4 linked regions of the Homo sapiens genome follow. The protein of the gene in region 2 purifies or fractionates together with the protein of the main gene of each other region. This does not show direct contact. Each region holds a gene or a part of one and is shown on either strand. Other genes may lie near its edges.

Evidence for each region.
Region 1: the proteins of STPG2 (region 2) and TF purify together in Homo sapiens (affinity purification with mass spectrometry; 3 studies listed by BioGRID and IntAct, with this or other methods). This does not show direct contact.
Region 3: the proteins of STPG2 (region 2) and TTC5 purify together in Homo sapiens (affinity purification with mass spectrometry; 3 studies listed by BioGRID and IntAct, with this or other methods). This does not show direct contact.
Region 4: the proteins of STPG2 (region 2) and NYX purify together in Homo sapiens (affinity purification with mass spectrometry; 3 studies listed by BioGRID and IntAct, with this or other methods). This does not show direct contact.

Annotation. Positions count from the first base shown.
Region 1 is NC_000003.12:133,749,374-133,756,397, forward strand, and holds part of TF (serotransferrin isoform 1 precursor), read left to right. Parts: intron 1-4,221; coding exon 4,222-4,330; intron 4,331-5,121; coding exon 5,122-5,298; intron 5,299-5,989; coding exon 5,990-6,122; intron 6,123-6,908; coding exon 6,909-6,964; intron 6,965-7,024. UniProt on the Homo sapiens protein: Transferrins are iron binding transport proteins which can bind two Fe(3+) ions in association with the binding of an anion, usually bicarbonate.
Region 2 is NC_000004.12:97,559,473-97,566,496, forward strand, and holds part of STPG2 (sperm-tail PG-rich repeat-containing protein 2), read right to left. Parts: intron 1-7,024.
Region 3 is NC_000014.9:20,288,936-20,295,959, reverse strand, and holds part of TTC5 (tetratricopeptide repeat protein 5), read left to right. Parts: intron 1-105; coding exon 106-252; intron 253-433; coding exon 434-648; intron 649-3,832; coding exon 3,833-3,977; intron 3,978-6,213; coding exon 6,214-6,333; 3' UTR 6,334-7,024. UniProt on the Homo sapiens protein: Cofactor involved in the regulation of various cellular mechanisms such as actin regulation, autophagy, chromatin regulation and DNA repair.
Region 4 is NC_000023.11:41,442,343-41,450,354, forward strand, and holds the start of NYX (nyctalopin precursor), read left to right. Parts: upstream 1-5,000; 5' UTR 5,001-5,174; exon of another isoform or gene 5,175-5,506; 5' UTR 5,507-5,562; coding exon 5,563-5,584; intron 5,585-8,012.

The sequences.
Region 1 (7,024 bases), on a different chromosome or scaffold from region 2:
TCCTGTGCTGGGCAATGGGGCTGCAGTGGTGAATTAAACACATTGGTCCTTACCCTCAGGGAGCTCATGGGCTAGTCAGGAGAGCAGAAAAACACACGAATAAGTAAACTACTAATTCCAAAATGTGGGGATGTACAATGGAGGGAAAAAGGAGAGTGTTCTGACAGGGACTCACAGAAAAACCTGCTTTGTCCTGGGTGGTCAGAGACCATCTCTCTGAGAGAGATGTAATGAAGGACTGAGCCTGGGTGGGCTCCAGTGTAAAATACACCAGGCAGCAAACAAGAGCATATGCAAAGGGCCTGAGGCAGAGCAGAGTGGGCTTATTTAAGTTGCTAGTGGGAGGCCAGGGTGATGGGAGCTGTCAAAGATAAGCACAGCCAGATATTAGTTTAGGCAGTGACAATAGGTTTCATTCAGTAACTGCTGACAGTGGGGGAAAGAGCTAGGCTCCATTCTGATTTGTGCAGTGGTGATGTGAGCATTTTAAAGGGAGAATGAGGGAGGGGAGAACGCAGGGCTCTGTAGAGTCAGAGAAGTAAAAAGGTAGAAAGGGCTGGTCAGTGTAAATGTGAGGAGGCCAGCTGTGTCTGATAGCTGGCAGTTCTCTCGATTAGGACTCTATTCTCCCGCAGAGACTGCGAGACAGACACTCTATCCATCCTGATGATTGTGTTGCAAAGGAATGGCTCTCAGTCCTTGAGAGAGATGCTTGTGAGTTTCAAGAGATACATATTCACAGTTTTAAGTCCTTTTTAGTAAATTCTCTTGGAAAGGGAGGTCAGGGGCCTATCATCAGTTGTGTGTTGAGTAGAAGAAACAGGTACATTTTCCTGGCAGCACTGAGTTTTCTCAGGCAAGCACTTTAAGGGGAACCGGGCCATCCTAGGGACACAGATTTGTTCTGCTAGGAGCCATGCCAGAGTCTGGTCAGGTCTCTTAGTGCAGAGGTTTGGACAGATGTGTCAAGTGTGGGAAATTCTACAGTTCTCAGCACAAAGCAAGCAGTAGGTTAGCCGAAGGGAAAAGGTGGAAGAAACATCCAGATGCAGCCTGGCTTCCCTCAATCCCCGCGCTGGGGTTTTCCGTGTCTTTCTGCTGGCTTCCCCTTGGCTTCCCTCCAGCCTTCTCTCTGTAGCTTTCCCTCTTCTGGGTTTGGTTATTTTGACTTGTGAGAGCTTGCTTGATTATAATCCTGTCCCTCCCAGCTGGCGCAGGTTCCCCTGGGAACCCTGCAGCTCTAGGGCTGGACGCTGTGTTTTAGGCCTTAGCTCTTTGGCTCCCTGAGCCCCCGAGGCACCAGTGATTTCTTGGTGTCTTGGCAAAGAAAGACCAGGTTCCTGACCACTCTCCCAACCCCACTGCAATGGGCAAAGCTCTCGTTTGTTTGCTTCATTTTTTAAAAAATATATATATATTTTATTATACTTTAAGTTCTAGGGTACAAGTGCACAACATGCAGGTTTGTTACATATGTACACATGTGCCATGTTGGTGTGCTGCACCCTGTTTGCTTCATTTTTATTCAACAATGTGAGGACTGGGGAAGGGAAGGTGTTTGCAGATTAAACAAAACCACGAAGTGTGTTTCATATATAAGGTCTAGTTGTTGTGGAACAGAAAGGCCCATGATGTCTGTTAATTTTGTTTTGTATTGTGGTATATTAAAAATATGTTTTACAACCCAAATATCCATTGATGAGTGAATAGATAAATAAAATGTGGTAAACACAAATGATGAAATATTTTTAGCCTTAAAAATAAATGAAACTCTGATATATGCTACACTGAGATGAACCTTGAAAACATAAGTGAAGCAAGCTAGATACAAAAGGACAAATATTGTAAGATTCCACTTTTTTTTTTTTTTTTTTTTTGAGACGGAGTTTCGCTCTGTCGCCCAGGCTGGAGTGCAGTGGCGCGATCTCGACTCACTGCAAGCTCCGCCTCCCGGGTTCACGCCATTCTCCTGCCTCAGCCTCCCGTGTAGCTGGGACTACAGGCGCGCGCCACCATGCCCGGCTAATTTTTGTATTTTTAGTAGAGACGGGGTTTCACCGTGTTAGCCAGTATGGTCTCGATCTCCTGACCTCGTGATCCGCCCGTCTCGGCCTCCCAAAGTTCCACTTTTATGAAGTATCTAGAATAGTCAAATTTATAGAAACAGAAAGTAGCATAATGACTACCAGGGGCTGGAGTGGGGGAGAAATAGGAGGTAATTGTTTAATGTGTAAAGAGTTTCAGTTTCTGGAGATGGATAGATGTGATGGCTATAAAACAACGTGAATGCATGTACTTAATGCCACTAAAATGTACACTTGAAAATGGTTAAAATTGGCTGGGTGCGGTGGCTCACGCCTGTAATCCCAGCACTTTGGGAGGCCGAGGCGGGTGGATCACCTGAGGTCAGGAGTTTGAGACCAGCCTGGCCAACATGGTGAAACCCCATCTCTACTAAAAAAAATACAAAAATTAGCCGGGTGTGATGGCAGGCGCCTTAATCCCAGCTACTTGGGAGGCAGAGGCAGGAGAATCGTTTGAACCCTGGAGGCAGAGGTTACAGTGAGCCGAGATTGAGCCATTGCACTCAAGCCTGAGGGACAAGAGCGAGACTGCTGATATAGTTTGTCTTACAACATATTTTATTTCATTTAGAAATACTATTGTCTTATTACTTGATTGTAACACAACAAAGTTCATGGAACTATAGCTTTTGCTTTGTAATTTTTTTTTTTTTTTTTGAGAGTCTTGCTCTGTCACCTAGGCTAGAGTGCAGTGGTACAATCTCGGCTCACTGCAACCTCTGCATCCCAGGTTCAAGCGATTCTCCTGCCTCAGCTTCCCAAGTGGCTGGTATTACAGGCATGTGCCACCAAGCCCAGCTAATTTTTGTTTGTTTGTTTTGGTAGAGACAGTGTTTCACCATATTGGCTAGGCTGGTCTCGAACTCCTAACCTCAGGTGATCCACTTGCCTAGGCTTCCCAAAGTGCTGGAAGTACAAGGTATGAGCCACTATACCTGGCCTGCTTTGTAATTTGATCAATAAGAAATCTTCATAGAGAACTGGCAAGGGCTTCTGGAAAAATCATTTTGATTAAAGACATTTAAAACAAAAAAGGAGTAAAACTATGTGTTTAAGTGTCTAAATAAAAGATGGTTGGGCTCACTTTAAGGATTTACATAAAAAGAAAATAAATTATAGATCTAGTAAGAAGGCAGCTATAATATTTCAAGGGACCTGTTGATGTAAAGATGAGGGCTTACAGAAGCACAAAGTCAAAAAGGAACATAACCTGAAGTAACAGTGTAATGATAAGAAATAAACCCGGAATGTCTGCACTGAAATCCCAGCTCCATGACTTACTGGCTATGTGGCCCAGGGAAGTGACTTAACCTTTCTGTGCCTCATATTTCTCACTTGTAAAATGGAGCTGAGAGAGAAAGAGAGATGAGCTGCCCATGTGTTGGAGTAGACAATTATACCAGAGATGAGCAAAAATGGAAATAATAATCAAGCTTTTGATCATTCAGTACATAGTATCACCAAGAAGCTAAACCCAGAGAAAGTGCCCAATCCCTCAGCAAAAGGGTCATGCAGTTTTATGGACCCAGGACAGGAAGGAAGAGCATTGAGTACTGAGTCAGAGTGAAGACGAATGTTTTCAAGGTTCCCATCTTCCCCCAGAAAAAAAATCTCCACAGAAGCACCTGAGGAAGACCTCAAAGGAAGTCTCAAAATAAAGAGGGCTCTGAGCAAAGGTCATGGGCTAGGAATGAAAACAGGTGTAAGAAGAGCGTGGCCAGCCCAAGAGAGCTGTGTCCTTGACAGCAGAGTCCCCTCCAGAGACTGCATTGCACTGGCTGTGCTCTGAGTCTGGGGTGGCGAGGGCGGCTTTCTCCCACGGAGCCTGCCAGGTTAAGCCTTCGTAATTGCCTACGGTAAAGTCACGTAGGATTTTTGGCCAGGAGCTGGGCACCTCACCGGGGAAAAGAGAAACACAATCCATCACTCCCTCTATGCAGAAGGAATAGGAATGTGGTGGCTAAGTGCCCTTGCGAGGGAGACAGAGTCAACTGAAGCCAGCAGGGCTGTGCGTGGTCTAGTCAAGTTCTGGCCCTGGGTCCGTGGAGTCCTGGTAGCCACTCTCTACTTGTGTGGGTTGAGGTGGGCCTTCCTTGGAAGTCAAGGCTTCATCCAGGACTGGCCTGTTCTCTTTCAGGCAAACGAAGCGGATGCTGTGACACTGGATGCAGGTTTGGTGTATGATGCTTACCTGGCTCCCAATAACCTGAAGCCTGTGGTGGCAGAGTTCTATGGGTCAAAAGAGGGTAAGTTCTCCCTGGGACCCCAGGAAGGAGTTGTCATCCTTATTCTATATGCTGAGTGCTGTGTTTTACAGGCAGGTTTTGGATATCAGATATAATGAACATTCATCTTTGGAGAGTGAGTAGAGAATGAGGGGCCCTGTCAGCTGCCACAGCCACACATCAAGGCCTCTGGGGGCTTTGGGCTGGCTGAGGACTGGTGCTCCTAAAACTGAGCCCTGGGCCAGGGGCATATGCTTATCAGAGAAACACAGCAGGCTGTGTGCAGCTTGACCTGAAGGCTACTGCGGTCTACTGATATGTCTAGGGTCCCTGGAGGCCTCTGGAGCCATAGGTACCACTCACACAGGAGGGGTCACTCTGGAGCACACACTCAGAGGCCAGCAGCCCTGCAAGTCTTCTGAGATCAACCTGACTGTCTCTGGGCCTGTGCCAGGGGACATGAAATACTTTGATGGGCCTCTGTTACCACAGCTCCAGTTTCCTGGTGGCTGAGGTTGGTAGGTGTAGGCAGACACGCTGCAGGGCCAGGGGAGGCAAAGCATTCAGGACACATGTGCGTGTGGCCTTCTTGCCCCTGTTTGCCTGGAGGGGTAATATTATAAATATTCCTTCTATGGTCTTCTCTCTCCCCTGCAACCCTAGGAAGGTTTTCCTGATTCCCCACTCCTTATCGCCCAGTCCAGTAAAAGCATGGCCTCTCCGCTCCCCTCCCTCCTCAAGAGTCCGGTGGTGATGAGCCATGTTTCCCTGCACCAGGCTGAGGGCCTTCCATTCACACTGTGCCTTTGCAGATCCACAGACTTTCTATTATGCTGTTGCTGTGGTGAAGAAGGATAGTGGCTTCCAGATGAACCAGCTTCGAGGCAAGAAGTCCTGCCACACGGGTCTAGGCAGGTCCGCTGGGTGGAACATCCCCATAGGCTTACTTTACTGTGACTTACCTGAGCCACGTAAACCTCTTGAGAAAGGTAAGCTGGCAGGAGTCTGGGTGCCCTCGAGCAGCTGCCTCTGCTCCAGATGCCCACACAGGCTGCACTAGACAGTCACCATCAGCAGACATGTGGGATGAACTCAGGTGGGGGAAAGAGGTTAACAGACTTTAAACTGGCAGGTCTGCTGCACCAGCAGCACTTGGGAGGTGGAGCTGAGCTTTTTTCTGCTCTGAGCTTCCAAAACCCCAGCAGAGGCTGTTCTGATGAGTGAGGAAAGGGCGCAAGGCTCGGCAGAGGGTTTCAGTCTAGGCGATGGTGGTTCTCTTGTCCACTTCTCTGGATTTCTTTCCTGGAGGTTTCTCTGGAGCCCTGCACCTCTCTTAAGCAGTTCTCATGTCTGGGGCATGGATCCCAGAGGGGACCTCTCTCTGAGCTGTTCCAGCCTCTGACAAAGCAGGGAGAAGGTGCTCTGAGAAAGACCCGAGATAGGCCTTGGTTAGTGGGAAGCATAGGCCTGTTTCCTCTGATGGATGGTGGCCAGACAGAGGTCAACTTGTTCCTATTAGAAATCCTTGATCTTGATGAGTTAGCATAAGGGCAAGCTGGGGCTGCATGTGCTGGTTTGGTTTTAGTCCCCTCTGTTCCCTGATGGGCCTGGGTGGGGTGATGCCATTGGCTGTGGCCAGCCTCACTCATGCTCTGTTGTCCATTTCTCTGTGCTGAGCAGCAGTGGCCAATTTCTTCTCGGGCAGCTGTGCCCCTTGTGCGGATGGGACGGACTTCCCCCAGCTGTGTCAACTGTGTCCAGGGTGTGGCTGCTCCACCCTTAACCAATACTTCGGCTACTCGGGAGCCTTCAAGTGAGTGAGATGTCTGCTGCTCCATGGTGGCCAAAGTGCCAAATGTCCTCAGGGTGAGAGTTCTTTGCTGGTCCAAAGCCGAGCCCTGCCTGCCTACAGGGGCATCGAGGTGGCCTAATCCCCTCCCAGTGAGTCAGAAGCACAACCTGGGACTCCTAGGCCAAGCCAGCCCATGTTCCCTTTCATCTGACCCTGACAAGTAGGTCCTTTTCCTGGGGACCCTTCCTTTCTCCCCAGAGCCCTCAAGCCTGGTCAGTGTCTCCTCTCGGTGGATCGGGCAGAGCCTGAAAGGACAATCATGCCTCTAGTGTCTGGGCCCACTGTCCAGGGACTGGCCCTCTTCCCTCAATCTCAGCAGTGTTACCTGCTCAGCACACTGCCTGTCTCCTGCCCCCATCACCGTCTCTATCTGGGAAGCTGATTTCTTGCTTTCTCTTTTTACCTTGATTATATCCTAAAGTTTTACAACCAGCCAAAGGCACATTTTCACCCTCAGGAGACACTATACCATTATCTTCTATTCCAGAAGTTTAAAAGCTCTTTTCACATGAAAATATCTTCAGTTGCATTTTGCTTCTTTGGGTTATGAGGGCTTTTTATCTCGTGTGAGCTCATTCCCCCATCTCAGCACTACGCTGGAGGTCTGCACACCATGGTGTTGCTTCAGCTACGGGGCTGCACCAGGCTCTATCCTAGTGTGAGTGCTGGACAGTGTGATCAGACTCTCCAGGTGCAGGAGAAGGGCCTGCCCTGCAGGAGCCCTGCTGATGTGTTTCTTTGACCCAGGTGTCTGAAGGATGGTGCTGGGGATGTGGCCTTTGTCAAGCACTCGACTATATTTGGTAAGAATGGGACAAGAATCCACCAGGGCCACTCCAAGTAGTGGGTGTTCTTTTTCTGTG
Region 2 (7,024 bases):
TATGGCTTACTTGGTGTTTCTATTTATAGATGAAACTGTTTCAAGTCAAACCTTTCTACAATTCTTTTTGTTCTTTATTTTTCCTCTGAAATTTGCAAAAGCTATTCAGCTTCAATTAATTTCCAGGCTTTTTTGACTACTCTAAAGTATGACTTCACTGACCTTTGTCCTAACTTTCTGATTTCCAGAACATTAGTTATTTTGCACTGATTACTACAGTATATTTAACCTTCAATTCTCTCTTTTCTACTCTGGAGTTTTGACCAATTCAGTTTCAGCTCCTGCCTAAGTTATCTTACCTGTAAGTATTCTATGCTATTTCCAATTCCTAATGTCCTTTTGACAAAAAGATCAAAATATTTTAACCAACACTTCATTACTCAATAACAAATATTTAATAAATATATAGTAAGAGCCTACTGTATGCAAAGCATTTTCAATTCTTTAATTTCCTTGCCTTTTCCTTCTCCAGCCTTCCTCAACTGATGCAAGTCATTTGTCCTCCACAAGTCTCAATCTTTTCTACTTAACAGACAAATCTGAACGGTAGGGTGATCATATTTAAACAGTGTCTGCTCTCATTGATCAGGCCTTAATATCTGATATCCTCCCAGACTACAGATTCCCATGATGACCCTTAGGATAATTTTTATTCCAAAGCAGTGTAGTACAGTGGAAATTGGTCTTGGAGGCAGATGAGTCTGAGTCAAAATTCTTATTCCAACATTTTGGAGTTATGACATCATCGGAAAATTACTCTGTTTCCTAACTATGAAATAGTACCCTTCTCTGCTGAAATATAACTAGGAAAATTGGCTAAATAGAAAATCTAATGTGCTCTGTCATCAATCATATTGTAAAACTTTGGGTACAGCCATAAGACTCTCTCCTTTCCTTTTTGGAGTACTAGAAGTGTCTAGACAAGGGCAAATAAATCTCATTTGAAGAACATGACTGTTTAATGAGACTCCATGCCCTTTAAGAGAGGGAAAGAACTAGGTACTCTTTGTAAATGTAAGGGAATATTTAAAAAGAGAGGGCTTATCAGACACGAGCAATGAAAACATGTTCCTCTTTAACACTGGATTGAAGGAGATGAGTGTCCACTGTTAAAGCCATAGATCTAAATTCTCCTTTTCTCCATTTACCAGAGAAGAGAGAAGTACCCATAGGCAAAAATCAAAGTAAAACAAAACAAAACAATGAGAAAGCATGAATCCAGAGATTCAACATCTGGTAGCATGGAACATTTGTTTCGAAAGAGCCAGTACAACATAGTAAAGAAGATCAGAGACCTATACCCAAGATGTATTCTCAGAAGGTGACAACATGAATGAGTAAAATTGAGGGGAGGGGGGAACGACTCAGAAAAGCAAATCTATAAGGAAATGTGTTTGACTCATTCTTGTCATTAGAAAGAAATGACCCCAATAAACGTACATGTGCATGTGTCTTTATAGCAGCATGATTTATAGTCCTTTGGGTATATACCCAGTAATGGGATGGCCGGGTCAAATGGTATTTCTAGTTCTAGATCCCTGAGGAGTCGCCACACTGACTTCCACAATGGTTGAACTAGTTTACAGTCCCACCAACAGTGTAAAAGTGTTCCTATTTCTCCACATCCTCTCCAGCACCTGTTGTTTCCTGACTTTTTAATGATTGCCATTCTAACTGGTGTGAGATGGTATCTCATTGTGGTTTTGATTTGCATTTCTCTGATGGCCAGTGATGGTGAGCATTTTTTCATGTGTTTTATGGCTGCATAAATGTCTTCTTTTGAGAAGTGTCTGTTCATGTCCTTTGCCCACTTTTTGATGGGGTTGTTTTTTTCTTGTAAATTTGTTTGAGTTCATTGTAGATTCTGGATATTAGTCCTTTGTCAGATAAGTAGTTTGCGAAAATTTTCTCCCATTTTGTAGGCTGCCTGTTCACTCTGATGGTAGTTTCTTTTGCTGTGCAAGAGCTCTTTAGTTTAATTAGATCTCATATGACAATTTTGGCTTTTGTTGCCACTGCTTTTGGTGTTTTAGACATGAAGTCCTTGCCCATGCCTATGTCCTGAATGGTAATGCCTAGGTTTTCTTCTAGGACTTCTATGGTTTAAGGTCTAACATTTAAGTCTTTAATCCATCTTGAATTAATTTTTGTATAAGGGGTAAGGAAGGGATTCAGTTTCAGCATATGGCTAGCCAGTTTTCCCAGCACCATTTATTAAATAGGGAATCCTTTCCCCATTGCTTGTTTTTCTCAGGTTTGTCAAAGATCAGATAGTTGTAGATATGCAGCGTTATTTCTGGGGGCTAAGTTCTGTTCCATTGATCTATATCTCTGTTTTGGTACCAGTACCATGCTGTTTTGGTTATTGTAGCCTTGTAGTATACTTTGAAGTCAGGTAGCGTGATGCCTCCAGCTTTGTTCTTTTGGCTTAGGATTGACTTGGCTATGCGGGCTCTTTTTTGGTTCCATATGAACTTTAAAGTAGTTTTTTCCAATTCTGTGAAGAAAGTCATTGGTAGCTTGATGGGGATGGCATTAAATCTATAAATTACATTGGGCAGCATGGCCATTTTCATGATATTGATTCTTCCTACTCATGAGCATGGAATGTTCTTCCATTTGTTTGTATCCTCTTTTATTTCATTGAGCAGTGGTTTGTAGTTCTCCTTGAAGAGGTCCTTCACGTCCCTCGTAAGGTGGATTCCTAGGTATTTTATTCTCTTTGAAGCAATTGTGAATGGGAGTTCACTCATGATTTGGCTCTCTGTTTGTCTGTTATTGGTGTATAAGAATGCCTGTGATTTTTGCACATTGATTTTGTATCCTGAGACTTTGCTGAAGTTGCTTATCAGCTCAAGGAGATTTTGGGCTGAGAAAATGGGGTTTTCTAGATATACAATCATGTCATCTGCAAACAGGGACAATTAGACTTCCTCTTTTCCTAATTGAATACCCTTTATTTCCTTCTCCTGCCTAATTGCCCTGGCCAGAACTTCCAACACTATGTTGAATAGGAGTGGTGAGGGAGGGCATCCCTGTCTTGTGCCAGTTTTCAAAGGGAATGCTTGCAGTTTTTGCCCATTCAGTATGATATTGGCTGTGGGTTTGTCATAGATAGCTGTTATTATTTTGAGATACTTCCCATCAATACCTAATTTCTTGAGAGTTTTTAGCATGAAGGGTTGTTGAATTTTGTCAAAGGCCTTTTCTGCATCTATTGAGATAATCCTGTGTTTTTTGTCTTTGCTTCTGTTTATATGCTGGATTACATTTATTGATTTGCGTATATTGAACCAGCCTTGCATCCCAGGGATGAAGCCCACTTGATCACGGTGGATAAGCTTTGTGATGTGCTGTGGGATTCGGTTTGCCAATATTTTATCGAGGATTTTTGCATCAATGTTCATCAAGGATATTGGTCTAATATTCTCTTTTTTGGTTGTGTCTCTGCCTGGATTTGGTATCAGGATGATGCTGGCATCATAAAATGAGTTAGGGAGGATTCCCTCTTTTTCTATTGATAGGAATAGTTTCAGAAGGAATGGTACCAGTTCCTCCTTGTACCTCTGGTAGAATTCGGCTGTGAATCCATCTGGTCCTGGACTCTTTTTGTTTGGTAAACTATTGATTATTGCCACAATTTCAGAACCTGTTATTGGTCTATTCAGAGAGGCAACTTCTTCCTGATTTAGTCTTGGGAGGGTGTATGTGTCAAGGAATTTATCCATTTCTTCTAGATTTTCTAGTTTATTTGCATAGAGGTGTTTGTAGTATTCCCTGATGGTAGTTTGTATTTCTGTGGGATCAGTGGTGATATCCCCTTTGTCATTTTTTATTGCGTCTATTTGATTCTTCTGTCTTTTCTTATCAGTCTTGCTAGCGGTCTATCAATTTTGTTGATCCTTTCAAAAAACCAGCTCCTGGATTCATTACTTTTTTGAAGGGTTTTTTGTGTCTCTATTTCCTTCAGTTCTGCTCTGATTTTAGTTATTTCTTGCCTTCTGCTAGCTTTTGAATGTGTTTGCTTTTGCTTTTCTAGTTCTTTTAATTGTGATGTTAGGTTGTCAATTTTGGATCTTTCCTGCTTTCTCTTGTGGGCATTTAGTGCTATAAATTTCCCTCTACACACTATTTTGAATGAGTCCCAGAGATTCTTGTATGTTGTGTCTTTGTTTTCATTAGTTTCAAAGAACATCTTTATTTCTGCCTTCATTTCGTTATGTACCCAGTAGTCATTCAGGAGCAGGTTGCTCAGTTTCCATGTAGTTGAGTGCTTTTGAGTGAGTTTCTTAATCCTGAGTTCTGGTTTGATTGCACTGTGGTCTGAGAGACAGTTTGTTATAATTTCTGATCTTTTACATTTGCTGAGGAGAGCTTTACTTCTAATGATGTGGTCAATTTTGGAATAGGTGTGGTGCTGAAAAAAATATATATTCTGTTGATTTGTGGTGGAGAGTTCTGTAGATGTCTACTAGGTCTGCTTGGTGCAGAGCTGAGTTCAATTCCTGGATATCCTTTTTAACTTTCTGTCTGTTGATCTGTCTAATGTTGACAGTGGGGTGTTAAAGTCTCCCATTATTATTGTGTGAGAGTCTAAGTCTCATTGTAGGTCACTGAGGACTTGCTTTATGAATGTAGGTGCTCCTGTATTGGGTGCATATATATTTAGGATAGTTAGCTCTTCTTGTTGAATTGATCCCTTTACCATTATGTAATGGCCTTCTTTGTCTCTTTTGATCTTTGTTGGTTTAAAGTCTGTTTTATCAGAGACTAGGATTGCAACCCCTGCCTTTTTTTGTTTTCCACTTGCTTGGTAGATCTTCCTCCATCCTTTCATTTTGAGCCTATGTGTGTCTCTGCATGTGAGATGGGTTTCCTGAATACAGCACACTGATGGGTCTTGACTCTTTATCCAATTTGCCAGTCTGTGTCTTTTAATTGGAGCATTTAGTCCATTTACATTTAAAGTTAATATTGTTATGTGTGTATTTGAGCCTGTCATTATGATGTTAGCTGGTTATTTTGCTCGTTAGTTGATGCAGTTTCTTCCTAGCATCGATGGTCTTTACAATTTGGCATGATTTTGCAGTGACTGGTACTGGTTGTTCCTTTCCATGTTTAGTGCTTCCTTCAGGACCTCTTTTAGGGCAGGCCTGGTGGTGACAAAATCTCTCAGTGTTTGCTTGTCTGTAAAGTATTTTATTTCTCCTTCACTTATGAAGCTTAGTTTGGCTTGATATGAAATTCTGGGTTGAAAATTCTTTTCTTTAAGAATGTTGAATAGTGGCCCTCACTCTCTACTGGCTTGTAGAGTTTCTGCCGAGAGATCCATGGTTAGTCTGATGGGCTTCCCTTTGTGAGTAACCCGACCTTTCTCTCTGGCTGCCGTTAACATTTTTTCCTTCATTTGAACTTTGGTGAATCTGATAATTATGTGTCTTGGAGTTGCTCTTCTCGAGGAGTATCTTTGTGGCGTTCTCTGTATTTCCTGAATCTGAATGTTAGCCTGCCTTGCTAGACTGGGGAAGTTCTCCTGGATAATATCCTGCAGAGTGTTTTCCAACTTAGTTCCATTCTTCCCTTCACTTTCAGGTACACCAATCAGACGTAGATTTGGTCTTTTCACATAGTCCCATATTTCTTGGAGGCTTTGTTCGTTTCTTTTTATTCTTTTTTCTCTAAACTTCCCTTCTCGCTTCATTTCATTCATTTCATCTTCCATCACTGATACCCTTTCTTCCAGTTGATCACATCAGCTCCTGAGGCTTCTGCATTCTTCACGCAGTTCTCGAGCCTTGGCTTTCAGCTCCATCAGCTCCTTTAAGCACTTCTCTGTATTGGTTATTATAGTTATACATTCATCGAAATTTTTTTCAAAGTTTTCAACTTCTTTTCCCTTGGTTTGAATTTCCTCCTGTAGCTCGGAGTAGTTTGATCATCTGAAGCCTTCTTCTCTCAACTCGTCAAAGTCATTCTCTGTCCAGCTTTGTTCCATTGCTGGTGAGGAGCTGCGTTCCTTTGTAGGAGGAAAGGCACTCTGCTTTTTAGAGTTTCCAGTTTTCCTGCTCTGTTTTTTCCCCGTCTTTGTGGTTTTATCTACTTTTGGTCTTTGATGATGTGATGTACAGATGGGTTTTTGGTGTGGATATCCTTTCTGTTTGTTAGTTTTCCTTCTAACAGACAGGATCCTCAGCTGCAGGTCTGTTGGAGTTTGCTAGAGGTCCACTCCAGACCCTGTTTGCCTGGGTACCAGCAGCGGTGGCTGCAGAACAGCGGATTTTCGTGAACTGTGAATGCTGCTGTCTGATCGTTCCTCTGGAAGTTTTGTCTCAGAGGAGTACCCGGCCGTGTGAGGTGTCATTCTGCCGCTACTGGGGGGTGCCTCCCAGTTAGGCTGCTCAGAGGTCAGGGATCAGGGACCCACTTGAGGAGGCAGTCTGCCCATTCTCAGATCTCCAGCTGCATGCTGGGAGAACCACTGCTCTCTTCAAAGCTGTCAGACAGGGACATTTAAGTCTGCGGAGGTTACTGCAGTCTTTTTGTTTGTCTGTGCCCTGACCCCAGAGGTGGAGCCTACAGAGACAGGCAGGCCTCCTTGAGCTGTGGTGGGCTCCACCCAGTTCGAGCTTCCAGGCTGCTTTGTTTACCTAAGCAAGCCTGGGCAATGGCGGGTGCCTCTCCCCCAGCCTCGCTGCCACCTTGCAGTTTGATCTCAGACTGCTGTGCTAGCAATCAGTGATACTCCATGGGCATAGGACCCTCCGAGCCTGGTGCGGGATATAATCTCCTGGTGCACCATTTTTTAAGCCCGTTGGAAAAGCACAGTATTGGGGTGGGAGTGACCTGATTTTCCAGGTGCCGTCTGTTACCCCTTTCTTTGACTAGGAAAGGGAACTCCCTGTCCCCTTGCGCTTCCCGAGTGAGGCAATGCCTCGCCCTGCTTCGGCTAGCACATGGCGTGCTGCACCCACTGTCCTGCGCCCACTGTCTGGCACTCCCTAGTGAGACGAACCCGGTACCTCAG
Region 3 (7,024 bases), on a different chromosome or scaffold from region 2:
CAGGAAGGAAAACAGTTTATTTCTCTAGATTCCTAGCCCATGGTGCCATTCCCTCGGGATAGTTTGTCTGGATATACTTATAATTGGGATACACTTCTTGTACAGTTGCATAAATATGAAGAGAGTTATGGGGAGGCCCTGGAGGGCTTCTCTCGGGCTGCAGCCCTGGACCCTGCCTGGCCAGAGCCCCGGCAACGAGAGCAACAACTTCTGGAATTCCTGGATAGATTAACCAGCCTCCTTGAGAGTAAGGTAAAAATGTCTGAAGGGCTGAATTCCACTTTTTTTTTTTTTATTTTGTCGTGGGTCAATAAAATAAGAATAAATAGGTTTACGAGGTAGAGACCCTATAGAAGTGGGTGGGAGGGAAGGATTAGAATCTCAAGGAAGGCGACTAGTTTCCAGCTTCTTACCTATTTCCCCTTCTTTGCAGGGAAAGGTGAAGACCAAAAAGCTGCAGAGCATGCTGGGAAGCTTGCGCCCAGCCCATCTAGGCCCTTGCAGTGATGGGCACTATCAGTCAGCCTCTGGGCAGAAAGTGACCCTGGAGCTCAAGCCACTGAGTACGCTTCAGCCTGGGGTGAACAGCGGTGCCGTCATCCTGGGAAAGGTGGTATTTAGCCTCACCACAGAGGAGAAAGTCCCCTTGTGAGTTTCTCTTGGATTTCCCCCATTTTACCCTTTTGAACTAATTGCTCTCACTTCCTGTTCTTTCCCTGGCAGTTGAGGAGATTGTCAGTGGTCACAGATTTGTGACTTCTGATTTCCTTCTGTGACTATCCCGTGGGCAGATATTGTCTGGGTGATGTTTAACCATCTTTTGATCAGAGGCTTTTGTAGATTCTGTCACTGCCCATTTTGTATCCCTGAGTTTGGTGCTATGTGGATTCCTATATCCATAGTTGAAATTTGGCAGGACATATTTTTTTATAAGACAGAAACCTCAAAATTCTTCTGTCCCTTTGCATTTTCATGATCATAGAAGTTGAAGGAGGACAAATTTCTTAGTCCTGTTTGTACTTAGGTATACTTAGTTCTGAAAAGTGAGCTTTGAGTTATAATTTAAAGTCTGGTTGGGAGATTGTCTTAGATGTCATTCAACAAATATTTATTGAGTGTGTAATATATGTGTCATAGGGAGTGAGAAAAAAGAAATGTAAAGGACCCAGGTGCAGGTGCTTCTAGCAGCAGAGGAAATGAATTAAGAATATTTGTTTAGAAAATTTTTGGATCTTGAAAAGTTACGGTTTAGTGAATGCCACCACTCCTTGGTCCTTCACTCACTTCCTAATCCCTGGTTGACCGGTTTCCCCTTTCTCTTTTCTACTGAAATTGTTATTTTCCTAGGATCACCATTGTCTTTCTAGGCACTGGATCCAGCAACTTCTATTGCATGGTTCCAAAACATTCTGACTTATCTCTCACTATTGCTTTTCACATCCTTTCTGTTCATCTAAACAGAAATATTCACAATTCCCATTATATGCCCAAGCTTTCTCCATGGCATTTTCTAGGGGTTTGTATATTTGACGAGTTGAAGGGCAAAAAGATAGTTGAGAACAGTTTAGTTTACTAGAGCAAATCCTAGAGCTGAGAAGAATTAGAAAGGGATATAGACAAAGGTAGGTTTTGGAGGACCTTGAGAACAAATAGATATTTTGCCACTCCTTGGTTTCTCTTTTTCTGCCTAACTTTTAAATCTTAGGTTCCCAGGACTCTATTTTTGTTTTTTTCCTTTTTTCTCTTTATATCAGGATGGCCTATAGTTGCCAACTTTGATCACTTGTCAGTGGTTGCCTGACATACTGTGTAGAAGGATTCTGAGGCTTTGACTGGATTCATCAGGAGAGTGCTTTGCTTGATTGCAATATTTCCTGTGAATTCAGGCATGTCACGTGATGGCATGAGTGTGATTCTTCTCCATCCTGTCTATAGATCATCTTGCCCTGTGATGTCATATAAACCCAAGGCTTTGGCAGCCTCCTATATGCTTACAGATATATCTCCAGCCCAAGCTTCATTTCCAAGTGTTGGATTCCTATAACCATCTGCTTCTGGGTTCCAATAAGAAATCTCTAACTCAGTATTTCAGTATTACTCACCTAAATCTTTCTCTGTAAACCTGCTTCTCCTCCCTGGATTCCTTGTGAATGAATGGTATCACCTCTCAGTCACTTGATTAAGACTTTTGGAAGAATAGGCTTCTCCATTCTCCAAAAAGATTTGCCTTTTTTGTCCTATAGACTTGACTTCTCTGTGTTTACCACCTTAATTCACCCCCTTATCACTTCTCCAGATAGGTCTCCCTGATTCTCTGGTTTCCTCCAGTGTTCCACAGTGCTGCCAGAGAAATGTTTCTTAGATGGAAATCTGACCATTGCTACTTCTTATTTAAGATCCCTTACTGGTACTATATGTAGCTTTTGGGATAAAGTGTGAACTACTTAGGTTAGCATACAAAGTCCTTCATGATTTGCTCCCTGCTTCTCTTTCTATTATCTTTTGTCTCTTTCCCACCAGTGCCTTTTGTTTCAACCATGGAACAATTTTGTTGGTTTTAGAACAGCTGTTTTCATGCCTCTGTGTCTTACATACAGTTACTCTGCCTGGATAATCTCTAGCTTCTTCTTGACATAGCTAACATCCTCTTCTGCCCCCAACATTTTGTATAAAAATTTTCAAACATATAGCTAAGTTGAAAGAGTTTTACATTGAACATTTGTGTTCTCATCCACTTATATTCTACCATTAATATTTTATTTTACTTAGCTTATTACATATCAGTCTGTTTATCCTGCTATCAGAGTAAATTGCAGAGATCAATATACTTTACATACTTTAGCATGCAGTCATTAACTGAGTTCAGTATTTGTTTCAATTTTTTCTTTTTATGTAAAATTTACATACAATGAAATGTACAATTTTAAGCGTACATTTCATAGCTTTTAACAAATGGAAAATATCTGTATAACCCAAATAGAGATCATTACCACCATTCTGGGAAGTTCCCTGATGTTGCCTCCAAGTCAAAATCTCTGTTCCTATCCCCTCAGAGGTTTTTAACATTTTTACCGAGGATTAATTTTTCTCTTTTAACCCAGCTGGTTTTTTACCCTTTAAGATTCACTTTGAGCGTCACCTCTTCCAGGAAATCTTCCCTGCTTTCCAATTTTGATTTAGATATTTGTCCTCTGGGCTCCCACAGCCCAATCTGTGGCTTCATTGAATTCAGCACAAGGGAAAAGCTATTCTAGCACCCATCACACTGTGCTGTAAGTGATGACTTCATTGTCTGACTCCTGCTAGACTATAGGTCATTCATAGCTGGATTGGTATCTTATTGCTAAACACAATGCTTGGCACATATGTAATATTCAGTGAAAGTTTGTGGAGTTAAACTACACAGACAGTGATGGTTAGAGGCTTTGGTTAAGAGTATGATAGTTAAATTGATAGACCAGGAATAATGTTACAACTGTAACATGTTGGTCTAGTTCATCATTAATATTTGTTGAATGGCTTCAGTGTGCTTTGTCCTAAGTTCTTAGCAAAGTGACTGATGAGTTTCAGAAAAATGAAGACTCAGATATATAAAGTGGAAGATGGTACCTCTCATAGGTTTTCTGAGTAACTGAGAAAAAGCATTTGTTTATTTTGTTAGTATTTTATTTTTAAAGTTTAATTAAGTTAAATTTTATATTTTATTTTAATTACCTGTCACTGACTTTAAGTCCAGTATTTTGCTAGTATTTTTAAACCACTGTTTCTGCTCTTCTTTCCTACCCACATACCTTTTTGTTTTCCTCTCTCCTAATCTGTCTTTACTTGGTAGTACATTTGGCCTGGTAGATTCAGATGGACCTTGCTATGCAGTGATGGTGTACAATATAGTGCAGAGCTGGGGAGTGCTCATTGGAGACTCTGTAGCCATTCCTGAGCCCAACCTGCGGCTTCACCGAATTCAGCACAAAGGAAAGGTGAGCAATGGCTAGGATTCTCTTACAACTCGTAGGCTCTAAAAGTAGAACCAAGCTTATCTTTTTATAAAAGATATAGAAATAATTATATGTAAGTATGTGTGTAGGCTATGTGTATATATATTTGTGTGTATATGTTTTATTTATATATATATATGTATTTTTTTACTAAAAAGGTAAACTGGTAAGCAGAAAAATAAAAAAATGCAGTGAAATATTATCACTCAGGTATTACTGCCTTTTAACTGTTACTGTTAACAGTTTGGTGTATATACCTGAAGTCTTTTCTTTTCACAAATATATACACATATATCTATATTTTAAATCATGAGTGGGATATTATATGCAAATGTTTGTGAATGTTTCCTATGTTTTTACATATTTCACCACATTGAGTAGACACGGGGTGATGAAGATGGTAATGATAGTTAACATTTATTTAACACTTAATTGAGTGCTAGACACTGTGCTAAGAGTTTTTATTACCTGCCTTGCCCCATTCAATTCTTAAAAAAACCTTATGAATGTAGATATTTAACTACTGTTTAACCATTTAGATCAGAGGTTGGCAAAGCCCATTGACCAAATCTGGCTCACTGCTTGTGTTTATTAATAATGGTTTCTAGGCTGGGCATGGTGGCTCATGCGTAAAATCCCAGCACTTTGGAAGGCCAAGGTGGGAGGATCACTTGAGCCCAGGAGTTTAAGACCAGCCTGGGCTATATAGTGAGACCCCGTCTCTACAAAAAAATGTTAAAAAACTTAGCCAGGTATGGTAGCACATGCCTGTAGTCCCAGCTACTAAGGAGGCTGAAGTGAGAGAACCACTTTATCTCAGGAGTTTGAGGCTGCAGTAAGCCATTATTGTCCCATTGCACGCCAGCCCGGGTGATAGAGAAAGTCTGCCTCAAAAAAAAAAGAAAAACAAGAGTGTGGTTTCTGTGTTGTTAAGTGAAAAAAATGGACAGAAGCGTAATATTTTGTGATATGTGAAAATTACAGGAAATTCAGATTTCAGTGTCCACAAATAAAGCTTTATTGGAACACAGCCACACTCATTTGCTTACTATTGTCTGTGGCTGTTTTTGCACTATAGTGTCAGAGGTGACTTGTTCTGTAACAGAGACCATATGACCTACAAAGCCTAAAATATTTACTATCTGTCCCTTTGCAGAAATACTTTGATGACCTCCGATCTAAATTAGTACTTTTATAATAGAAAAAAAATTAGAAACACAGTGAGGATTTTTGTATCTTTGCTTGTATCTATGATTAGTTCCTTAAATGAATTTCTAATGTAGACTCCTGGGTCCAAAGGGTATGCAGAATTCTGAGGCTTTTGATACATATTGCCAAATAATTCTTTGGAAAATTGTACTAGTTAGTTGTCACTACCAACAGTGGATGTAAATAAGTGTTTCTCTGTAGTTTTTTTCTCAACTCTGGTTGGAAACCTTTGAAAAGTTATTTTCTAATTTTACATGGAAAATATAGCATGAATATTAATTTATATTTCTTGTATAAATTGCCATTTTTTGTGTCACTTGTTGATATTTCTGTGAAGACTTAAAAAAAATTGGTTTATGAGAACTTTTAAATTTACTTTACTTGGACTTAAAAGAGCCTGCCTCTCATTGCCATATTTTTTGGATGAAGACTATTTAATATGTTTTACAACTTAAAATACACTTAAACTGATACAGTGAGCTGATACCTTTTTTGTTATTAGGAAAACGGCTACATTCTGTTTCATGTTCTATTTCCTCCTCTTGATATAAAAGAGAAGTAACTTTAATTTGTATTTGGTGGATTAAATTAGGACCTTATAAACATTTGGACTGAGATTTTCTCAGGATTCCCACTGGCTCTGGCCGGCTGCTATGTGTATCTAGTTAATTATCAGGAAACACCGTGGGAAAAGGCAGATTCTATGAGAGTTGGTTGCATTCTTTTGTTAGGCAATGCCAGGAACCTGCCTTTTTTGGATCAAAGAGCTGTCTCATTCTTGTAGTGGCACTACATGACCTTACATGCTCCATGTTTTCCTTCTGAAGATTGAAAACTTTGGGAAATTTTCGTCCCCTGTGTTAGCTCAGTTTTGTCTGATGTGAGATGGAAGTAGAGGGGGTATACAACAGGGGAGGTGGTGCAGAAAGTTGCAAGTGGTGTATCCCCATGCTGGAGCTTTTTCCATCTTGGAATCTGTAGTGAACCTTTGTCTGTCTGTCTTTTCTAGGACTATTCCTTTTCCAGTGTTCGAGTGGAGACGCCCCTCCTGCTAGTGGTGAATGGGAAGCCTCAGGGATCCAGCAGCCAGGCTGTTGCCACAGTGGCATCGCGACCACAGTGTGAATGACCTTTGACTTGCATGCTCAACAGGGAGTGGAGGAGAGGAGACAAGGCTCTGGACAGCCGGTCCAGCCACATCCAGTGATTCAGCAGGGATGGGAGGAATGTTTTAAATGAAGACTTTCTCTTTCCCTGCCTGTATTACACTTCGTATCTCTTCTCTCTCCTCTGTCCTCATCATGTTCCAGCTCTCTACAGGGCCACATACTCTTCTGGCATATCTCTCCTGTCTCTTCCACTGCTCTCTATGTTTTAAGCAAAGAGCATGGAATTGGTAGAAGTCTTGGGATCTTGCCATGGGACAGAGTCCCCAAGGTTCCTGTTGTTGCCTCCTTCCTAAGCCTCATATGTATATATCAGTTCAGTATTTATTGCTAAAGGAGGGGGCTTAATTTTGTAATGGCTTTTATTTTTAGCAATTTTTATTTTTATTTTTGAACTTTAGGTCCTTCCTCTTCTTTGGGGCTGGAACAGAATTAAATTTGTTTGGAAAAAAAAAAAAACACCACGTAGTTTGGCCTGCTTTATTCTCCCTAGGCCTGTATTCTTTGTTTTAGGATCACTTCAATTTATTGGAGTAATACCCCCATTTTTTTCTTTATACAAAGCAGTTTATTTCTCTCCCAGTTAAAAGAATTCCGACAATAGACAGCCCCAGGCAGGAATGGCAACTCCACAAAGTTGCTAGAGACCAGCTT
Region 4 (8,012 bases), on a different chromosome or scaffold from region 2:
CGGTGCCCTCTGGCGGCCACGCTGGGCAGGACCGGGCTCATCGGGGGCGTGGCTCGCCCCGGAGGCTCCGCCCCTTCTCCCCAGGGTGGGGCCGGGGTGGTGGTTACCGGCAGAGGCTGCAGAGGTTTCGCAAGGACGTGACCTTTATGGGAAAAAAAAACCACTGTGTCACGCACGGTTGCCAGCCGGGGCCAGCGAGCTGAACTAGTTTTCTGAAGCCCGCGGAGGGAGGAGCCAGAGCGGAAACGTCCAGCCCAGTGACTCGCTGCCTACTGCCCCTCCAGGACCGCGGCGGCGCGCCCTGAGCCCCGGGGCACCAGATGGGGCGCGAGCCCGCACCTAACTGTGTCCGGGCCTGCCGTTGGGGCGACGTCACTGTCACTACACTGGGAGTCAGCGGAATGAGGGCACTCTCGCCTCTCTTCCTCCTTCCTCCAATTCCAGAAATGAGGCCCGGGAGCCCAGGCTGATCCAATCCAACCCCACTGAGCTGGGGTTTGGATTGGAAGGGCGGATGTGAAACGACAGAAGTAGGATAGTTTGCGAATAAAGAACAAGGGAGTTGGGTGCTTTAGCCACAGAATAGGTTCAGCCAAGGTCATTTAGAGGTGCCCAGCAAGAGGGGAGTGGCTACCCCTCCCCCATCCTGATCTGAGGCATGCAGTGGGGACGTCGGGGGTGGCCACAGGGGCTGTGTGTGTCCTTATTAGGACCCGAGAAAAACCCAGGGACTGGGAGGCAGGAGGACAGGGTACCCACTGGGTCCCAGCTCCACCTTCATATGTCACTCTGGGGAGCAGGTCACTTAATCTCTCTGGGCCTCAGTTTCCTCACTTGAAGAATGAGGGGTCTGGACAAGATTATGGAATATGTTTCGAGTACAATCAGGCCTAGGAACTGAAAGTCCCTGTCCTGACACCATCCAGTAAGTCAGAGAAAAAGGAAGGGTAAGAGGCCAAGGCTGTCACTCACCCGGTTCTCTTTCTATAGCTCCCTTACAAATTCTCACATGGGCTTCAATTCCCTTCAGCAAACAATTGTGCACTTCCGCCTGTGTGCCAAACCCAGGCTTGGGCCCAGCTTTGTGGGGCCTGGGGCAAGAGTACGCACGGAGGACCACACACTGTATGTCTGAATATTTAAAAGCTACACATCAAGCTAAAAAACTGTTAAATAAAACATGTTCTATCCTCCTATCTGAGCAGATATACCTTCATAACAATCTGGAAGGTTAAATTCAAGTTTGCAATTCTTGCATTCCTCAGCATTCTGGGCTAGGGTGTGATGGCACAGAGAGTGGCCCCAGCTCAAGGCCATGGCGTAGCTTCCCTCTATTCCCAGGCCGGATCCATCCCATGCTATAGCGGATCTTTCCCACGCACGTCCTCATATCCAAGCTCTGTCCCCTTCTCTGCAACTGTCTACCCCCTAAAGGATCACCTCTCGAGTATGCACATTGGTGAGACCATCCACCTTCAGGAGACTGGACCTAGAGGAGTGGGTTCAGAACCTGTTGGGCAGTGAATTCCCAGGTCGCAGGTATCCAGAACGTGGTTCTGGGTGGGTAAGTGTCTTGGCCTCAATGACTCCTTGCCCTGTGTCTCCCTGCCTCTTGCCCTGTCTGAAGGCGACACCAGCCAGACATTGTGGGAGTGCAGACTTGGATCAAGCACAGCCCCTCCAAGGAGGCCAGCCATCCAAACACTATGAACTTTGGGCGCAGTGGCTCAGGCCTGGCGTGGTGGCTCACGCCTGTAATCCCAGCACTTTGGGAGGCCGAGGTGGGCGGATCACTTGAGGTCAGGAGTTTGAGGCCAGCCTGGACAATATGGTGAAACCCCATCTCTACTAAAAATACAAAAATTAACCGGACATGGTGGCGCGTGCCTGTAATCCCAGCTACTCCGGAGGCTGAGGCAGGAGAATTGTTTGAACCCGGGAGGCGGAGGTTGCTGTGAGCCGATAGCGCACCACTGCACTCCAGCCTGGGCAGCAGAGCGAGACTCAGTTTCAAAACAAACAAACAAACAAACAAACAAACAAACAAACAAACACTGTGAACTTCGAGGCAGATGCCTGCAAGTGAGAAAGGAGGGCACTGGAAGGGGATTCATTTCTTAGAGGTGGTAGCGCTTATGCTAAGCATAGCAGGCAGATTGAGATTTCAGCAGGTGGAGAAGTGGGGAAAGAAAGGAGCAAAGCAAAGGCCCAGGAAGGGCTACCCAGGGTTGGGGTGTCTGTGAATTGTCACTACAGGGCAGAAAGGCTGGAGGGCAAATCTGTGTCCTCCAGATAGCAGGCAAAGCCTCCAGTAGTCGCCGGCTGTCTTAATTAATCGGTAATTCTTACCAATTCCAAGGTGGGGAAGCCTGGCCAAAACGGCGAAACCCCATCTCTGCTAAAAACACAAAAATTAGCCAGGCATGGTGGCCGGCGCCTGTAGTTCCAGCTACTTGGGAGGCTGAGGCAGGAGAATGGCTTGAATCCAGGAGGTGGAGGCTGGCAAAATCATGCATCTTGGGCCATCACTATTTCTCAAGGTCACTTACACACCCCTTCTCCCTCCTTCAGCTCCTTTTATGGGCTACCAACTGCATGATGAGTGAGAACTAGCATGGGTACAAAACCACCCCAGGAGGGCCAGGTACAGTGGCTCACGCCTGTAATACCAACATTTTGGGAGGCTGAGGCCAGTGGATCATTTGATGTCGGGAGTTCGAGACCAAACTGGCTAGCATGGTGAAACCTCATCTTTACTAAAAATACAAAAAAAATTAGCCGGGTGTGGTGGTACTCACCTGTAGTCCCAGCTACTCAGGAGGCTGAGGCAGGAGAATTGCTTGAACCCGGGAGGCAGAGGTTGCAGTGGGCTGAGATCACGCCACTGCACTCCAGCCTGAGGGACAGAGTAAGGCTCCATCTCAAAAACAAAAACGAAAAAATCCCTCCCCCAGCAGCCCACGAGTGGCTGGAGTAGGCTCTGAAAGGGCCGGCCTTTCTCCTGTCTTGAGCTTTAAGTTTCTCCCAGGGGAAGTCAGTCAATCGCATTTCCTGTAACAACCCTGGGCCACCTGCTTTTCTCCCTGCAGCAAGGTTTTGATTAAGGGCTGCTCATCCTCCCAAGTCGGTGGTACCAGCTCACCTGGTGGATGGGCTCCTTCCTTTTTATGCCAAGAGTCTCTGATGCCTCCTTATTTTCCACTTGGGAGAAATGTTTCAGTTCACAGGTGGAGAAGAAGGTCTTCCTTAGTGGGATCCCAGTGCCAGAGCACCAGGCCCACTGGCCTGGAGAAGATTGAAGGGAAGGTTGGACCAATAAGCTGCGAACAAAGGTTGTGGGTGCAGACAGGTTGGCTCTTACAGTCGAGATTCAGCCTCTGGACTGCTGCTGGGGGAGTGGGGGCTTCGTTGGGCTAAGGCTTGGGGTGATGGCTACAGGGACACCTCCGACACTGGTGGTCACAATGAGAGGGCTGCCCACTGCTCTCATCTAATAAGCCAGGCGAGTCCAACACTGGGGATAGAGATGTCATTTGAGAGGCCTCCCCCACCCACATCCCTACCCCATCCCTAGTATTCTCTTCTTTCCAGCAGGTTAGACAAGTTCAGCCACATTTTGGCTTTCAAGGCTCAAATGGAAGAAAACAAAAATTCCCCAGGGCACGGTGGCCTGAGATGTCTAGATTCACATCCAGAACCCTTTCTGTGGGAAGGGAACTCCTGGCTTCCTTTCATCAGCACTGGCTCACCAAGTCCTGCGTGGCCAGAACTTGGCAGGTTGCCATGGATACCTGGAAGTGCTGTCCCAGCAGACAGCAGAGGCTTGCTGGGGCCAGGAGAATGTGGGGGCACCTGAACTGCTGGCCAGAAAGGCTAGATAAACAGGCCCCCCTGCCACCCTCATTTTGATCAGACCCCCTCCACCAGTCTCCTAAAACAGGGCTTTCCAAACTTTACCGGGCACAGGAATCCCCCTCTCCGCCGACCTAGTTAAAATGCAGATGCTGGCCGGGCGCGGTGGTTCACGCCTGTAATCCCAGCACTCTGGGAGGCCGAGGCGGGTGGATCACAAGGTCAAGAGATCAAGACCATCCTGGTCAACATGGTGAAACCCCGTCTCTACTAAAAATACAAAAAATTAGCTGGGCATGGTGTAGTCCCAGCTACTCAGGAAGCTGAGGCAGGGGAATCGCTTGAACCCAGAAGGTGGAGGTTGCAGTGAGCCAAGATTGTGCCACTGCACTCCAGCCTGGGCGACAGAGTGAGACTCCATCTCAAAAAAAAAAAAAAAAAAAAAAAAGCAGATGCTGATTCAACAGGTCTGGGGCGGGGGGTAGAAGGCGCTGAGATTCTGTTTTCCTAACGAGCTCTCAGGTACTGCTGCTGGTCCACCGGCCACACTGAGTAGCCAGGGCCTAAACTGAGTCCTGGTGGGTTTCAGAAACCTCAGCCAGATTCTGAAGGTCCCATTCCTGGACCCACTGCCTTAGGCCACCACTACCAGCCCTAACCCCAGTGGGAACCTCTTGCCTTCTTGTAGTGGAAGGACTCTCTCCAGTCCGTTTTTGTATCATTCACCATCAACCACTTCAAAGAAAGGAAATCAGCAGCCGGCATTTTGGGGAAACATTTTAAGCTGTCCTGTCCCTTCTCCAGCTCTCCAAGTTATATAATGCGTCCTTGTTGAAAATGCTGATAATGCTGTTTGGGTGGCAGGAAGCCAATTTCAGGCTACATATTGCTTGGGGCTGGGGCTGGGGTCAGGGAACGGGGCAGGGTCTGGGGAAGGTTTAAGGAGAGAAAGGGGCCAGGCAGATGGAGAGAGGACAGGAGGGCCAGGGTGGTCAAGGCCCGGGGATAAAGCCGATTGGTATGTCAGCAAAATCTGTCACTGGCTTTAGTGATTCGAAAGGCAGACACATTCTTTCATCTCTGTTAATCCTCATGTGATACAGAGGATTTTCCTGCCATTAAATCTGGAGAAAGAAAAATAAGCACTCAAACCTGCACAAGTAACTATTCCTCTTCACCCCTTCCTCCCGTCCCCCCACCCCCACCTTTACTTCTCTCTCAAACCATTTTCAGCATCTGTGGCTGCCTGACTTGGGAGATGGATGGGCTGAGGGAGTGGAGGGGGACCTCAGAGGAGCAGGACCAGGGAGACTCCCAGGACGGTAAGCAACATTTGAGGACCATTCACTAACGCTTCTCTGCAGGGGTTTCCTCTCCATCCATTTCCTTGCTGGGTTGTCAGTGATGCCATCTGAGTTGCTGTCAGGGCTGTAGCCTGACAAAGGGTTTCCTAATAGATCCAAACTGTCCATTTGTGGGGAGCTTCTGATTTTCTGTTGTTACTGGTTTCCCTTAGCCCAACACCAGGGTCATTAAGAAGGAAGGAATGTGAGGAAGAAAGAAAGGCAGGGCATTCAGGAAGAAGTGTGGAGGCATGGGAGGGTTCTCATGGGGCCCTCCTGGGCACTGGGTGACCTGTCCTTTCTCCCCTCAGGTAGGGGTCCCACGGCTGGGTGGTCCTAAGCCACTGGGTGGATGAAAGGCCGAGGGATGTTGGTCCTGCTTCTGCATGGTGAGTTCTCCTGCCGGTGGGTGCAAGGGTTGGGAAGAGGGGTGGAAGCCACAGAGCTTCTGCCCAAAGAGTCTTTAAAGTGGCTTCTGGGACAGCGGTATCTGGACACTTCTGATCAGGTTTCACTGACCCTGTGATCGTGGGGGAGGGGATAGAGAAAGCAAGAAAACAGCAGGTGGTGGGGATTTTTGTTTCCTAAAAACAAAACTCCTGAGCCGAATATATGAAATAGTCCTCTTGGTGATTTTCTTATTCTAATTTCAGATATGAATTCATTGGTGTGATAACCAAAAGCTACAGTGCTACAGTGTTTTTTTGTTTTGTTTTGTTTTTGGAGATGGAGTCTCGCTCTGTCACCCAGGCTGGAGTACAGTGGTGCGACCTCGGCACACTGCAAGCTCCGCCTCCCGGGTTCACGCCATTCTCCTGCCTCAGCCTCCCGAGTAGCTGGGAGTACAGGTGCCCGCCACCACGCCTGGCTAATTTTTTGTATTTTTAGTAGAGACGGGGTTTCACCATGTTAGCCAGGATGGTCTCGATCTCCTGACCTCGTGATCTGCCCGCCTCGGCCTCCCAAAGTGCTGGGATTACAGGCGTGAGCCACCGTACGGTGGTTTTTTCTTTTCTTTTCTTTTCTTTTTTTTTTTTTTTGAGACAGAGTCTCACTCTCGCCCAAGCTGGGGAGCAGTGGCATGGATCTTGGCTCACTGCAACCTCCGCCTCCCGGGTTCAAGTGATTCTCGTGCCTCAGCCTCCTGAGTAGCTGGAACTATAGGCACCTGCCACCACGCCCAGCTAATTTTTTGTATTGTTAGTAAAGACGGGGTTTCGCCATATTGCCCAGGCTGGTCTTGAACTCCTGACCTCAGGTGATCTGCCTGTCTCGGCCTCCCAAAGTGCTGGGATTGCAGGCATGAACCACCGTGCCCAGCCTACAGTGGTTTCTAATCACATTATTTTAAGCTCATTTAGTTAAAAACAAAAGTCCCTTTAAAAAACCACCTTCCTAAAGGAAAAAGAAAAAATGAAAAATGCCTTGGAATTATAGGATTATGGATATTGAAGTTATTTTTCAAAGTTTCTCGCTCTGTTATGTGCACTTTAATATACCAAGAAGACTCGTTATGAAATATTTTCCCTGGCTCTAGCTGTTCCAATCTGACTGAGATAGCCCAAGGAAAAATCCTTTAAATTCTTCAGTAAATGATTCTACACAAAGAATCTGTTTTTTTCTGACCCTCAAGTGAATTTAATTATTTGAGATATGATGATCTATGTAATAGACCTCTGTATGCGATGCTGATAGAGAACATTTTACCAGATCATCTAAAACAGGAGTAATGGAGTTTTCTTCCTCTTTATTCCACCTTTTCAAAAACCGGAACTTGCTCTGTTCAGTCAACCAACAGGCATACACTGTGTGCCTTCAAAACGCTCGAGAGATATTTATGAGGGATATAATAGCATGCTCTTTGTCTTTGAGAAAATTCTTTTATAAGAGATTCAATAAATAAGCAATAAAAAAAATTGGAGCAAGGCACGTGGAACACTGTGATAAATAGGACATGACTTCCTACCTCGAAGAGGTTCTAAAGAACAGAGGTTGATATTTATATAATTACTAACAGTCAACTTCTTGCCATTCCTCCTACCTTGAAAAAAAAATGAAACTTGATTGACTCATTGGGGCACAATGTTTGCTTCCAACAGCCAGTATCATTTTAAACGTGCACCAAAAGCTCTACCGTTCCTCACAGAAAGCAGACCGTATTCATAGCCTGCACACTTCAAAACAGGAACTGTCCCTGCTACAGAAACCCGAAATATATCCAGACTTCTTGTGACAAGTTGGAGAGCTCAGCGGTGACATCATTTGCTAACAATAGATGCACTTAAAATTAATGACCATCTCCACATCCCCTGGCACTTTAATTTAAAACACACTCTAGCAAGCACAGAGAATATTTCTCTGACTGCGAGTCACAAGCAATACGGACAATATGTTCCCGAGAAGCAGGCAGGGATAGTGCTCTACCTCCTTGGCCAGAAAGAAAATGACTAAGTGAGCCTCACAAAACAACACCTTGGAGAAATCAGAAGTGGCTCGCAGCAGGGAAATTTGGGGCAAGAGAAATTCTCCTCTGGACACACAGGGCTCCTGGAAGTGCCCCACTTCTCAGATGCATAAGTGCAAATACCTCCACCTCCTCCCCCCATGTTAACCCCTGGGGTCTTCCCGCTGTTCACAGCATAATATCTGAAACCCTTAACTTCTTTTACAGGGTCTTTCACATGTGACTTCCTCTACACTGAGTCTTCAAAGAGAGTCAGGGGTTGTGTGTTTGTGTTTTTTGTGTGTGTTTCTTTTGAGACAGGGTCTCGCTCTGTTGCCCAGGCTGGAGTGCAGTGGCATGATCTCAGCTCACTG